Linked DNA regions of Homo sapiens: region 2 is linked to region 1. Evidence: fine-mapped expression QTL. A gene starts in region 1. The other region holds a variant in brackets. All regions are shown on one strand. Distances are between the middles of the regions. Region 1 holds the start of ADAMTS13 (ADAM metallopeptidase with thrombospondin type 1 motif 13). Region 2 has its middle 8.9 kb from the start of VAV2.

Region 1 (4,000 bases):
GCAAGCAGTGGAAAGCTAACAGGAAAGGGGCTGGCAGGTCTTGGAAGGATGGCCTTCCGAAGTCAAGACATTGCGTGTCACCCCCACCCCAAGAGCCAGACCCCATTAGTGACTAGGCACGCAAAGGGCAGGGCCCAGGAGGAGCTGTTGGGCTATTGTGTGCTTTGGGTCACCCCATCAAGACAAGATTCCCACTGCCCTGGTGGCTCTGCCCAAAGGGGAAAGCCCCTGCCCTGCCTCCTGGACCCTGCTCTGGGCACAGGTGTTTCACAAGTAACATCATGGACCCCGACAGGAAACTGAACACGAGTGGAGCCCAGTGGTCTCTTGGGAAGCAGGGGCCCAGGCCAGCCCTCACTGTCCTCTCCCAAGGGAGCCCTTAGAGGGTCAGGGACCCTGGGCAATGATCTCCCAGCCTTTCAGGAGCGGCAGCGCTGGAAGGACCCAGGCTATGGGATACCCAGACAGCGTCGGCTGCATCCAGCCCCCAGCGTGGCCCCAGGCACTGGTCAGTGTGCCTCTGGCCTAGACCACAAAGAACCAGGTCACAAAGTGGGCCTTGCCCTCCTGTTGCCCCTGACCACTAGCCCACCTGCCTCTGGCCCCCATCAGCCATTAGTCAAGTTGCCAATGGCCCTACTGGGAAGGGGGCTCGCACCGGAGAAGGTCACAGACATGGGCCTGTGGGCAATGGGGACAGGCCTTTATCATAAGGAAATCCATGGCCTTAGGAGGTAGCCTGAGCCAGTACCTATCTTGTTTCCCACAGAAGGAATAAATATTTACATCCACGGTCAGAAACCACAAGAGCTCCTGAAAATCAGCCAGCTCAGCAGAGGCCATGGGGCAGGAGGGGCCAGCCAATCGGTGACCGTTCCCTTGTGATATTTAACAGAAGCTAGGGTGAGAACCCTGGCCTGGCTGGAACACCCAGACCAGCTTATATCAACTTGGCAGGAAGTAACAGAGTTAATTAACAGGGTTGACAGCAGCTTCTCTGACCTTCTCCTTCCAGATCCACCAAAAATCCCAGACCACTGACTCAGTGGTGAGATACCCCTTGAAAGTCCTGAGAAACTCCCCCCGGGAGAGAAGACACCAGGACAAGTACCTTTTAAGGGAGCACCAGGGCTCAAGTAAGAAGACACGGCCTGTGGCTCCAAAGCCTGAAGACAACTCTGCAAGACAAAAAGAGATGGATGGGGCCGGGCATAGTGGCTCTGGCCTGTAATCCTAACACTTGGGGAGACCGAGGTGGGAGGATCACTTGAGTCCAGGAGTTTGAGACCAGCTGGGGCAACATAACAAGACCCCATGTCTTAAAAAAAAAAAAAAAAAAAAAAAGAGAGAGAGAGAAAGAAAAAAGAACAAAAAGAGATGGATGAAGAGGGAGACAGGAGGCAGGAGGTGGGTGAGGCCAACCAAGAAGGAGAGGGGGAAATCAGAGACAGGGAGAGGAAGGGAGAGGCAGAGAAGAGCAACCTACACAGTTTGGGACAAACTAGTATCTGTCTGTTCAGCTTCACCGAATGAGCAGGTCGTACTGAGACACCAACTCCCTCTTCAGTGAGCACACTTCATCCCCCAAAGCCCCAAGTACAGACTCCCCTGCCCAGCGCAAACCCCAAAGCTGATGTAGTCAGCTATTTGGCACTCCCCTCGCCCCAGGTAGCTCAGAATACCCCACCCAGAGGCTCCCAGAATACCCCCGCTCCTGCAAATGAGCCCACCTGCTGGAAATGGGAGGGTCCCCAGCAGCCCAGGAGAAAGCCACAGGCAAGGATTCCGGCCACACAGAGGGGAGGGCATCTTGCCCGGGGGTGACGCTGGTGCATCCTCAGGAGAGCCAGCCCGAGGAGTGGAGCGGAGTGAGAGGGGGCCTTGGTGACTGGGAATCTGGTCAGTATGGAATGGGACAGGCCTGCTCACTACTGGGCGGGACGATTAGGCAGTGTTTACTCTTGGAAGCTTCCTGCCAGGGCAGGGGCCGTGGCTAGGGTGGGCGGCCTGCAGCTCCTCCTGCTGCAAGCTGGGCCTTGCTCTAAGATGGTTGCAGTTCAGGGTAACCTGCAGCCCAGTCCTGCACACCAGACAGCTCTCCGGATGTGCACGCCCACCCCCTTAGAGGAGGCCTAAGCCATCTAATCTGGAGAAGGGACACTGGACCAGAAACCCACAGACGGGGGTTCACAAGGAATGCCAGGACCTCGGCTGACTCCCTCTCCGGGGTCCCCGCTCCCATCTGACAGATGAGAGGCTGTGCCAAAGACATCGTGGTTCTGGCTCAACTCTCCACCTACTCTGTGCCTGCGCCTGATGAGGAGAGTCGCAGAAGCAGGCTGCACGGCACCAGATCTCAGCATCATCACAAACGGCCTGGCAATCCCCTTCATCTCCTGGAAGACTCACTTCACATGCTCCAAACCACTCTTTTACACCCACAGAGCCGCACAAGCTGATGACCAGCAGGGGGATTCACCTTGTCTTTCCACCCCTCAAAGTGCAGCCTCTCTCCTCCTCTGCGATCAGGGAGGACACACCTACACTTCCTGCCAGGCCCTGGCTCTGGATCCCTTCCCAGCTCTCTCCTCCTGCATCGTTAGTTTCTGCCCCTCTGCTAGAGCCATTCATTCATTCCTTCAGCCAACAAATGTTTCACTGAGCCCCTGAAACAGGCCAGGCTCTGTGCTAGACACCAGGAAAGCAGCCCCAAGCCAGGCAGACAGCAGCCTCGGCCTCTCACAGCTTAAATTCTAGGGAAGAGAGCCAGACAGCAAAGTTGCTAGACAGACACATGTTGTATATGTAGTATGTTCAAAGGTGGTAAGTGTTATGGAGAAAAATACAGCAGAATAAAGGAATGGGGGACTGGAGGGAAGGGTGTGCTTTCATGCAGGAAGGTAAGGAGGCTGTTGGAGAAGGGGGCATGCTTAGATATCGAGATCCTGGTACCTGGCTCACTCCATCAGCATGAATGACTCTCCTGTCTCTTTTTGGTTTTTGTTTGTTTTTTGAGACAGAGTCTTGCTGTGTCACCCAGGCTGGAGTGCAGTGGCACGATCTCGGCTCACTGCAACCTCCGCCACCCAGGTTCAAGTGATTCTCCTGCCTCAGCCTCCCTTGTGGCTGGGATTACAGGCACCCGCCATCACGCCTGGCTAGTTTTTGTATTTTTAGTAGAGGTGGGGTTTCGCCATGTTGGCCAAGCTGGTCTCAAACTCCTGACCTCAGGTGAGCTGACTGCCTCGGCCTCCCAAAGTGCTGGGATTACAGGCATGAGCCACCAAGCCCAGACACTCTGGTGTCTCTTGATTACAATCAACAACCTTCCCTTGACCCACACTGTCCTCCTGCCATAGCCCTGTTTCTGGCTGTCTTTAAGAACTTAGAAACATTATTTTCAGTGGCTATCTCCACTTCCTTGCCTTCAATTCCCACATACCATTGAAATTGATCTTTAAAAGGTCACCAATAACTTTGTGAACCCTGAAAGAGCCAATCCTTCTTGATGGATCCCAAGTTACTAACTGGGCCTAAATTCAAAGTAGGACCTAGCAGCCATTTGCTGACTAGGGTCACACACACATTCTGCGTTCCTGGAAAGCCCCCACTCTCACTTAACTCTGGGATGGTTTCACAGCTATCTGTTCCTGTTTATGCCGCCAGAATCAACCCATCGACTGTGACCTGCATCGACCAATCTGAACTCAGCAAGTATTAACCAATCAGAACTAAGCAAGTGTGCCTTCCTCATTTGCATAAGTGGACCAAAGTGGGAACCTGGGCAGGAAGTTCTCTACAAAAGACGACCTCTTTCTTTGTTCTCTTTGTTCCCTGGAATGCACCTTTGTACAGAAGGCTGCATTGCCCTGGTTTACAAACTGCTGGAACAAAGTTTTTTTCCTTTTTTAAAAAGAAAACCTGGGCCAGGTGTGGTGGCTCACGCCTTTAATCCCAGCACTTTGGGAGGCCGAGGCAGGTGGATCACGAGGCACGCGGA
Region 2 (4,519 bases), 580 kb before region 1:
TACAGATGAATGGTGGATGGATGGTTGGGTAGGTGGATAGACACATGGGTGGATGGGTAGATGGGTGGATAAATGGGTGGATGAATGATGGATGGATGGATGAGTGGATGGGTAGAGGGTGGATGGATAGATGGAGGGCTGAGTGGATGGATGGGTGGGAGGATGGAATGGTGGATGGGTGGATGGGTGGATGGGTGGATGGATGGATGGATGGAGGGATGGGTGGATGGGTGGATGGGTGGATGGGTGCGTTGGTGGGTGGATGGGTGGATGGATGGGTGGATGGGTGGGTGGATGGGTGGGTGGATGGATGGGTGGATGGATGGGAGAATGAACTCATGCTGGTGTCTAACTCTCATCAGTTGTGCTCAGAAACAACACAGCACCCTCTGGGACCCCTGAGACCTCCCCAGGAGGCAAGGGGCCACGGTGGCAGCCTCTGTTGCCCAGAGACATGCTAGACCCTGTTCTGGGTGCTGGGAGGACAAAAAGGAGGTAAGCCCACAGGCCAAGCCCCCAGGCCAAGCCCCCAGGCCAAGCCCCCAGGAGCCCACCCCACACCCAGGCAGACATTGCAGGACCTCTAAGCAAGGTACAGAGGGCACTGGGGAGGCCAGGAGATGGTCCCTGAGGGAAGCGATGGCTGAGCTGGGTTTTAGGAGACATACACATTTCCTGGGGGACCAACCTCCCATGGGCCCACTGCTGGACAAAGCCAGACACAGCTTGGTGTGGAGAGAATTTCAAGAGCATGAGTATTGTAGGATTTGGGGTGGGTCTGGAGAGTGGCATAAATTAGACTGAGAGGGCTGTGAGGGGTGCAGAGGGCCTTGAGAATCATGCTTAGGAGGCTGGATGTGCTCAGAGGGTGGGGGACCCAAGACTGTTGTTTTGTTTTGAAATATAACAAACAGCTTTATTGAAATAGAAGTTGCATGCTGTACAATCCACCCACAATTCAGTGCACAATTCAGCGGTTCTTGGTATATTCACAGAGTTGTGCAGCCATCGCCACCATCAATTTTATAACATTTTCATCCCTCCCCAAACCCCTGTACCCATGAGCAGTCACTCCCCCTCCCCACCTCCTGGCACCTCGCAATCTACTTTCTGTTTCTCTGGATTTGCCTGTTCTGGACATTTCATAGAAATGGAATCATACAACGTGTAGCCTGTAGCCTTTGTGTCTGGCTTCTTTCACTGAACATAAAATTTCGAGCTGCATCCATGTTGTAGCATGGATCAGAAAACTTCATTCCTTTTTAAGGCTGAGTAATATTCCACCATATGTTTATCTGTGTTTTTTGTTTTTGTTTTCATTTCGCTCTTGTTGCCCAGGCTGGAGTGCAATGGCACGATCTCGGCTCACTGCAACCTCCGCCTCCCAGGTTCAAGCAATTCTTCTGCCTTAGCCTCCCAAGTAGCTAGGATTACAGGTGCCTGCCACCACACCTGGCTAGTTATCATTGGGTTTTTTTTGTGTGTATTTTTAGTAGAGATGGGGTTTTACCATGCTGGCCAGGCTGGTCTCGAACTCCTGACCTCAGGTGGTCCACCTGCTTCAGCCTCCCAAAGTGTTGGAATTACAGGTGAGAGCCACTGCATCCAGCCCCGTGTTTTGTTTTGTTGGACTTTTGGGTTGTTTCAGCATTTTGGCTGTTTTGAACAATGCCGCTATAAATATAGGTGTGTAGGGTTTTATGTAGACACAAAGGTGGGCTTTGAGCAACAGGG[G/A]GCACAATCAGATTTAAAGGGGTCATTCTTCCTGCAGGTGGGGATGGGGGTCAGATGGAGAAAAGAGCCCAGAAAGGCTTGGCCAACCCTTGGGGAAGTATCACCCACACTCTCTCCCCAGTTCCCAGCATATGCACATGCACACGTACACGTATGTGTGTACATCTGAGCAGTCTCCAAGGCCTGCTATTGTTGAGTGTCCCAGGGACAGGCAAAGCTGGCCCAGTTCTGAGCTGATGGAGGAGAAGAGTCTCTTTAGTAGCAATCCTTGCATTCTTGTATTGATATGGGGGGGTCAGCCTCAGCGCGGAACTCTTTACATCCCCGCTCTCCCAGAACCCCTATGGCCACGGGTGGGGCAGATCGCAATATGGCCACTCATGAGAGAGGAGACAGAAGCTCATGCTGGTGGGGCAGAACCAGGCTTCAGGCAGGTGGACCCAAGTCCAAGTTCAAGATATCAGTGGCCACCAGGCATGTGTGGCTTCTGAGCTCTTGAAATGAGGCTTGTCTGACTGAGGAACTGAATCTTTATCTAATTTGTTTTTTGTTTTTTGAGACAGGGCCTTGCTCTGTCTCCCAGGTGAAAGTGCAGTGGTGCAAACATTGCTTGCTGCAGCCTCGACCTCCCGGGCTCAAGCGATCCTCCCACCTCAGCCTCCTGAGTAGCTGGTACCACAGGTGTGTGCCACCATGCTTGGCTAATTAAAAAAAAAAATTGTAGAGATGGGGTCTCACTGTGTTGCCCATGCCGGTCTCAAACTCCTGGCCTCAAGCAATCCTCCTGCCTCGGCCTCCCGAAGTGCTGAGATTACAGGTGCGAGCCACTATGCCCGGCCTCTAATTTTAATTAATTTAAAAATTGATACTCAATTTCATTTTTGGCAAACTTCTAAGTTTACGGGAAACAATTTGGGTATGCAAATCTACTTTTTCAACTGTGAATTCTGTGAAACCTAAACACATATCAAATGCGTCTGATGAAAATTTAGGGTTCAAACTGAAGTCCGCTATCAGTGCAAACCACATGCTGGATTTTGAAACTTGGCGAGAAAAAAGAATGTCAAATGTCTCTCTAATAGATTTGTACATTGATTACATATTGAAATGATAATATTTCAAATATACTGGATCAAGTACAGTGTATTACTAAAGTTGATTCCACTTACTATTAATTATTTGTCAGCCATAAAAAGGAATGAAGCCCTTCCTGGTGCACGTTCATGGTGAATGGAACTTGGCATCATGCTGGAGGGAAGAAGTCAGGCACAAAAGGCCACACGTTGGCTGATTTCATTTAGATGAAGTGTCCGGAACAGGCAAATCCATAGAGACAGGAAGCAGCTTAGTGGTTGCCATGGCTGAGGATGGGCAGGGTTGAGGAGGGCAGCTAAGGGATACGGGGTCTCCTTTGGGGGTGGCAGAAATGTCCCAGAGTTGGAGTACGTGAGCTGTGGTCTGGCAGGGGTGCTGTCTAGCAGGGTAGGGGTGGGTATGTCTCCTTGGCAGTGCCCTTACTGCGCCTCAGGAGGTGCTGTGGCTAGAGGACAGCTGGAGGGGCCCAGGACAGGGTGGCATTGAATGCCATTAAGGGCATGGACAGGCTTAGAGCCCAGTGTCCCTTGGCCGTGTCTTCCTAGCACCAGGGTGTGCTGCCTCCCTTTCAGTAAGAGCCAAAGTTTCCAGAGTTCGGCAGGCTGAGTCTGCCAAGGACCACATTCAGGAGGCTCCCCAGCCTCCCCCTTGTATCGCATAACTCATAACCCATTCCCATAACTCACAGCTGGCCATGTGGGTCTTGGCTCATCCTCCTAGCTGGTCTGGGCCTCGCCTCCCTCTCCTGCTTTGGGTTGGCCTGCTGGGCTGTGATGAGAGGGCTCCTGCAGAGATCCCAAGTCCACCTCCACACGCTGCCCAGCCTCTGGCCTACACTTGCATGAAGTCCGTTCACATTCACGGAGGGAAGACTGTTTCCCCCTTCCTTAAAGCCTTGATTAGGTGACCCTGAACTCATGAGCTCAAAGACTCCAGGCAGTGCTCACAGAAAACTGCCCCGGTCTCCTAAATAGTCACTGGAAGGTGTCCAAACAATGGCCACTTGGCAGTGAGATTTCAGAGATTTCAGTTTAGGGTACGATCCATGGATTATGGCATTTGATTTAATTTTGAAAGTTGAACAAGAAGTAAAAAATCTATATTTTGCCCTTTCAAACAAAATGTAAAAGCCCCCACCCAATAATTCAGTCAGGCATACTCTGACTGCATGGTGGGCCAGATGGTCTTTTTCTACACCTATAATTTCCCAGGAAATTGTGACAGCTGAATTTGCATGATGTAGCTACAAATGGAATTTGCACAATGTGTGTGTTCATGTGGTTTGGACATGAGAATAATTCCTTTATCCCATCATGTTGGGAAGAGTCAAAACATTCACTTGCCCTTCCTCATGAACAAAGCCAGTGCTCAGTCAGTATTTTCTATGTGGAGGATGGAGGATGGGTGGAGGGATGTGAGGGATACACAGAGGGATGAATACAGGGATGAATGGAGGGATGGGTGGGGGAGGGGTGGAGAGATGAATTTAATGGATGGAGAGATGAATAGAGAGATGGATGGGTGGATGGATGGAGGGATGGGTGGATGGATGGAGGGATAGGTGGATGGATGGAGAGATGGGTGGAGGAATGGATGGGCGGAAGAATGGGTGGAGGGATAGATGGAGGGAGGGATGAATGTGGGGGTGGGTTGAGGGATGGATGGGGGAGTAATGGGTGAAGGGATGGGT

Evidence for each region. PIP is the estimated chance that this variant, and not a neighbour inherited with it, causes the effect.
Region 2: its variant is fine-mapped to the expression of ADAMTS13 in spleen (GTEx, PIP 0.95).

Annotation. Positions count from the first base shown.
Region 1 is chr9:133,420,279-133,424,278 of GRCh38, reverse strand. ADAMTS13 (ADAM metallopeptidase with thrombospondin type 1 motif 13) reads right to left here and starts at 1,912. Exons shown (of 29, transcript NM_139027.6): 1 at 1,731-1,912; 2 at 1,112-1,178. The coding sequence starts at 1,835. RefSeq lists enhancers at 2,158-2,217, 2,338-2,387, 2,618-2,757.
Region 2 is chr9:133,998,980-134,003,498 of GRCh38, reverse strand. No RefSeq gene overlaps it. Among named protein-coding and RNA genes, the nearest start is that of VAV2, 8.9 kb to the right of the region's middle. The variant G/A (reference allele first, on the strand shown) is at 1,735.